Regions from separate parts of the Homo sapiens genome. Here region 1 is linked to region 2. Evidence: fine-mapped expression QTL. A gene starts in region 2. The other region holds a variant in brackets. All regions are shown on one strand. Distances are from middle to middle.

Region 1 (2,894 bases), 850 kb before region 2:
AACAGACAGGTGAGGAAGCCGTGACTCTCGAGGCCTTGGCCCCAAGCAAAGTAGAAGGAAACTTCTGGCTGAAAAGGAAGGTTTATGCACGTGCCTGATGTTCAGTCTACACAGCGTCCCTGGGTGGAGATTGGAAACCCTTGCTGAATGCAGTGTGTGGCCCCACCCCTTGCAGGAATCTGCATTTCATGGACAGAGGGGTCCCCCCTTGAATTTCCAGTCTTAGCCAGTATTTTCTTCTCCATATCCTTGCATTGACCTTGGCATGACTTCTCGAAACTTTGTGTGAAGTGTCATTCTGCTTTTTCTCCTTGGCACAGGTGGGGCCAATAGCAGCAGCCCCTCCCATACGTTTGCAATGAGTGGGGGTGTGGGGTGGTTGGCTGGAGCAAGGGGCCAGCGACTCCTGGAACACTGAGTTGGCCTTTCCTCCCAGGTTCAAGGACGGCTCCACTACTACGCAGTGAGGGTCACTGGCCACAGGGGAGGAGGGCACAGTCAGGCGTGGTACCCAGGCCACAGAGGTGCCCTCGTCCTGGTTCTCCACCAAAGAGTTCAGGCCCCACTACAAAGCAGTGACTGTTCTGAAGATGAGAGACGAAGGGTTCCAAAGAGATGCAGAGAGGGGTGAGACCATGGTCCTGTGGGCCCAAGAATGCAGGGGACTCTGTCCTTAAAACTCCAGCAGGGGGTGTGGTGTGGGTCTCGCCTCTGCAGTGGTCTTCCCCACTGCCTGTTTTTCACCTTCTTTCCTGACTCAGGACCAGGCAAAGCCCTGGGGAGAGGAGAAAGGGGAGGAGCTGGTGCCTGTGCCCGGCTGTCAGGACACGAGAAGGGGCAGCAAGCAGGGCACCTGGCCCCAGCTCTGAGCAAGTTGTCCCCCCGCAAGCTGCCCAGGGGTGACGTGCACCTCCAGACAGGCTGACAGCTGTACTTGCACCTCCGGATAGGCTGACGGCCCTATGCCCTAGGTTCCAGAGTGTGGCAGAGATGGCTGGGTTGATTTTCCTGGAAGCGTTTCTGCTGACCCTGCTGAAATGGACAGGTGGAGTATGTTCAGCAGGCAGCCGCCCACCTCCCTCCCCAGGGCAGTAAGGCCAGGGCTGGGGAGGAGAGTCTTCCAGAAAGTCACGCGCGGCTGCACCCAGCCCAGGATGTGGCTGTGCCCTGCCGGGGGGGCTTCTCTGCAGGGCCCAGTTGGCTCTCCAGGGACCTTAGGTTCTGGAAAACAAGAGGGTCTCATGGGGTTCTGGAAAACAAGAGGTGGCTGGTGTGGATGGGGATGTCCTCCTGAGGCCCCACAGGAATAGCCCCCGGGTCACAGTGGGAAAAAGTAAGTCCCTCCCAAAGTGGCCACCCCAGGCAGCCTGGCCTGCCTCCTGGAGTGCCTTGGGTCAGGGGTCAACAAGCTGCTGCATCCCGAGAGCCAAACCTGGGCCCCCGTTTCTTGAGTATCTGCTTGAATGACCCTCCCCTTCCCTGCTCATCCCTGGGCCCAGGAGAAGCTTCATCATAGGCGGTTAAACTGCACCTGTGCTCGGTACTGAGCCACTCTCCAAGCCACACCTGCCTGGCCAGGGCCTGGAGCCTCAGCCAGCAGCCTCAGGCCCCAGTGTCAGGACCTCCCTTGGTCCTGCAGGGAGGCTGGGCCTTTCCTGGGGTGGGCCGCCCCTGAGG[C/T]GGGGGCTCCCATCCACCACAACCTGCACTTGGAAGCTCCAGAGGGGCAGCCACAGGGAAGCCGTGGGGTCTCTGCCCTTGGCTCCTGGACGATTCCGGATCTCCAGGCCAATGTGTCCAGCACGGCAGCCTCCCCACCCAGCCCCATGCCCTCGAGAGAATGACCTCGGATAAGCAGCGTTTCTCAGGGAAACCCCCAGGACACCCCCTGCTCTCCGAAGTTCTAGTCTTTCCCTTCACTCAGAGTAATGGATGTGTGTTTTCCTTAACAATTCCATTATTAAAAGAAGTTGTTCAGGGATCTCGCCCCAGAACAAAGCAAGCCCTCAGTGGGCCGTAGGGTAGCCTGCTGTCTCCCCCGGACAGGTGCACCGGAGCTCAGGGTGGACAAGGCTGGCTTGGTCACCAGGCCCAGGGGAGACGGTCAGCACCCTCTTAGCCGCACAGGAGGGGGGTAGGGAGAACGCTCCAACCTTACTCCCAGTCAACTGGAATCACCTGGCATGATTTCAGCTCACAGATTTAAAAAAACTGCCTGTGAGAATATTGTCCCTGTGTGAGGGGAGGGTCTTGCTATTCCTGGACCCAGTGTGTCCAAGGGAGGGAGAGTTGGGCCTCTGTCCCCCTGGGGTCCCCAGCTGCTAGGCAGCTGCACCTGGGATCCTGCCCACCAGGGAGTAGGAGGCTGCTCCCAGCTCTGTCTCCAGATCTGGGTCTAGTGCTGTGTCCGAGCCCTCTGCTCCCATAAGCCAAGGCCTATGGGGACTGGCCTAGGGTGAAGGAGCCTTAGTCCTTGAAATACCAGACCTCATTTTGAAACATGTGAAGGAGCTGCAGCAGAGAGCACTGGCTTGCGTCCCGGGAGGCGGCTGTACGTGGCCAGCATGCCTCACAGGAGGTAATGGCTGGTGTCACTGGCGTGGCTTAATGACAGAAGTCTGAGGTTTTACAGGACAAAAGGAATTGGGGTTCGTGCATCCAGATGTTTCCCCAACACATGCAGGGACTGTCAAGACCAGGAAGGGGGGACACAGAGAGCAGCAAAGGGGTCACTGGGAGTGGTAAAGGGGCCACTGGGGGTGGTTCTTCAGCCAGGCCCAGCCCCTCCAAGCCCCCCCAGCCCCTCTGAGCCTCTCCGGGGGGATCCTGGGGGCTCCTCTCCAGGCCACTGGATTTCCCAGCACCTGGCCCCATGGAGCCCGGGGCATGGTAAACCC
Region 2 (2,894 bases):
CACTAAGTCATTACCATTTATTTACTTTTTAAGCATGAAATTAAACTTTAAAAAAATAAATATTTAAATTCAGGAGCACAACTCCCGCTTGAAAAGAAAGCTGTGGTGAATCATTTAAAACCAAGATTTGTCCCAGATGGACTGGTTTCACAGGTGACTATTATACATTGAAATGGCAAGATGGGACATGAGACATTTTCTGTCAAACCCCTGAGGCCTTTGTCCTGTCGGCCTGAACCACTGGAATTAAGTCCCACAGCGTCTTCTGGGAGCCCTGGGGTGGTTTCAAGCCCGCCCTGCTGCTTCACAGACACAGCCAGGCACTGAGCCCCAGGCCCACTGCCCTGCCCCGACTCCAAGGATATCCAGCCCTGGTCTCTGGCCTTTCCAACCACTGATGATGTATCATCGAATTCTGTCTGGCCCCTCAGGACTAGTTTATGTGCATCTTAATTTGGCTTAATCGTGGCCACATTGCTTTATTCTTGGGCTCTCTCCTCTCAGAAATCGATGAGTGCCGGTCTCAGCCGTGCCTGCATGGGGGCTCTTGTCAGGACCGCGTTGCTGGGTACCTGTGCCTCTGCAGCACAGGCTATGAGGGCGCCCACTGTGAGCTGGGTAAGAGGGGCCCTGGCCCCGCTGGGGTGACAGCTGCAGCACACTGGCCATGTGCCTGAGGCACTGGGTCCCCCGGACAGGTCTCTGTCTGGATGGCCAGGGTGGCCACTGCATGCTTTCTCGGGCCCCTGCCAGCTCTGACATCCAAGACAAAGATTTTACAAATATCCCTTCCTGCACCTCCCCAGGGGAGACTGAGAGCCCAGCTGAGAAATGCTGGCCTGGCTTCAGGGCGCAGAGAAGGTGGGCGTCGGAGAGGGCAGGTCACAGTCTCTGACACCTGGTCGGTGCTTCCAGCCAGTGGAGGGAGGGGAGGCCTGCCCCATGAGCCCTGCACACTCTTGTACCTCGCTAGGGCTCTAAGCCTGAGAAACGCAGGCTCCAGGGAGGGCAAGGCCCAGGGAGCCGTGCCCAGTCGTGGCCCTGGGGAGCCTCCCATTGCGGAGTGGCCTGGAGGAAGGCATGGCCTGGAGGTGGGGCTTTGCCAGCAGGCAGTGGAGGTGGCACGCCTCCCGAGGAGGGGTGGGTTTGGGGCTGATGGAAGAAAAAGCACATGTCCTGAGTAGTTGCTCCCAGCTGGGAAAGGGGTAACTGAAGCCCCAGGAAATGCACGGAATCCTGGGGGCATGTGGGCGCCTCAGACTTGAGCCAGCAACACCCTTGACACCCCTTCTCTGTGCAGAGAGGGATGAGTGCCGAGCTCACCCGTGCAGAAATGGAGGGTCCTGCAGGAACCTCCCAGGGGCCTATGTCTGCCGGTGCCCTGCAGGCTTCGTTGGAGTCCACTGTGAGACAGGTAGGGGCTCCCTCCAGTGGGCCCCACATGCAGAGCCTGGGCCTCTGGAAGATCAGAGAGGAGGTGGGGCATCCCCACATTCCCTGCTGGGCAGGCCACCTGGGGAGAGGGACCCCCAGGGCTGCGGCCACCTTGGGAGGGAGGGGTGGAGGTGAGGGTGCTGGGGAGGGCTGAGGGGCGGGACCTGCCCACTGCCCCTCTCTCCTGGCCTCCGCCCCTAGACTCCTCCTTTCCCTTCTTCCCGCTGTCCTCTCCTCCCTCCCCCAGACTCCCCCCTTGCAGCTTGGGCCCACTCTCTGGGTGTTCTCCAGAGGTGGACGCCTGCGACTCCAGCCCCTGCCAGCATGGAGGCCGGTGTGAGAGCGGCGGCGGGGCCTACCTGTGCGTCTGCCCAGAGAGCTTCTTCGGCTACCACTGCGAGACAGGTAGGGCGGCAGGCCTGCCTGCTCCCCGCCCTCTGCCCGCCTGCTCCCCGCCCTCTGCCCGCCTGCTGCCCGCCCTCTGCCCGCCTGCTCCCCGCCCTCTGCCCGCCTGCTCCCCGCCCTCTGCCCGCCGCCTTGGAAGTCCCCTTCTCAGGCCAGTGGCCCTCCGCCTGTCTCCCTTGGTCCCACAATGGTGCCTTCTAAACCTCCCCATCTCCTGCGCTCACCCCCCAGACACCCCTCTTCACCCGAGGACACACCCAGGGGTGGGGCCTCACGTCCACACATAGGCCCTGCTGCCCTTGGACAGGCCAAGTTTCTTGCACACCCAGGTCTGGCCCCTGGCTGTCCTTCCATCTGGAACATTCTCCCTAATCAGCCCCCAGTGGGATACCTCCTGATGAGGCTTCCCTGACCACTGACCTCCCCTCCTCAAGCAGGACTGTCACTGGGGTGGTGGCCTGTCCTGTCCTGATCCAGTGTCTCCTCCCCTCAGCCAGTCCGGCTGGTGGCACTCCGCTGTGGAGGGTGGAGGAGCTGCTGGGTTGGGCCCCGCAGGGCAGTGGAGGTGGCAGAACCGAAGGGAGGCAGTAGCTGTCCTGTGCCCCCCGCCCCTCCACACCCACGCAGGAGGGACCCAGTGCCCCAGGAGCAAGGGCGGGGCTGGAGCAGGGACCCCTGGCCACGCCCCAACATACACTGCCACTTTTTCTCCCCTCAGTGAGTGACCCCTGCTTCTCCAGCCCCTGTGGGGGCCGTGGCTATTGCCTGGCCAGCAACGGCTCCCACAGCTGCACCTGCAAAGTGGGCTACACGGGCGAGGACTGCGCCAAAGGTGGGTGGCGAGGGCGCCTCCAGTGAGGGAGCCACGAGGGGGTCCCCTCTCCCTAGAGGGCCCAACGGTCTCCAAGGGCAGAGCGTCTGGCCGCTGCTTGCCCAGGCCCCTTCCCTGAGGAACAGGGAGGGGATAAAATCCCCCGGTGGGCTTGAAACACGGTCACACATTCAAAAGTGTGACCCTCCTGGAGGTACGTGGCCAGGGACAAAGAAGGACTCTG

Direction of the effects. Positions count from the first base shown, and alleles are read on the strand shown. Sizes are in standard deviations (SD) of each study's normalised expression.
With allele T in place of C in region 1, the expression in amygdala of the gene that starts at base 1,832 in region 2 is higher (moderate effect, 0.62 SD a copy in GTEx).

What was found. PIP is the estimated chance that this variant, and not a neighbour inherited with it, causes the effect.
Region 1: its variant is fine-mapped to the expression of SNED1-AS1 in amygdala (GTEx, PIP above 0.99).

What each region holds. Positions count from the first base shown.
Region 1 is chr2:240,210,845-240,213,738 of GRCh38, forward strand. LOC107985836 (a long non-coding RNA gene) reads right to left here. Exons shown (of 3, transcript XR_001739238.1): 3 at 558-775. Among named protein-coding and RNA genes, the nearest start is that of OTOS, 72 kb to the left of the region's middle. The variant C/T (reference allele first, on the strand shown) is at 1,678.
Region 2 is chr2:241,062,287-241,065,180 of GRCh38, forward strand. It overlaps SNED1-AS1 (SNED1 antisense RNA 1), which reads right to left and starts at 1,832. Exons shown (of 3, transcript NR_187212.1): 1 at 1,794-1,832. SNED1 (sushi, nidogen and EGF like domains 1) reads left to right here. Exons shown (of 32, transcript NM_001080437.3): 17 at 505-618; 18 at 1,301-1,414; 19 at 1,726-1,839; 20 at 2,558-2,671. It also overlaps a transcript of MTERF4 not described here. RefSeq lists a silencer at 1,781-1,940.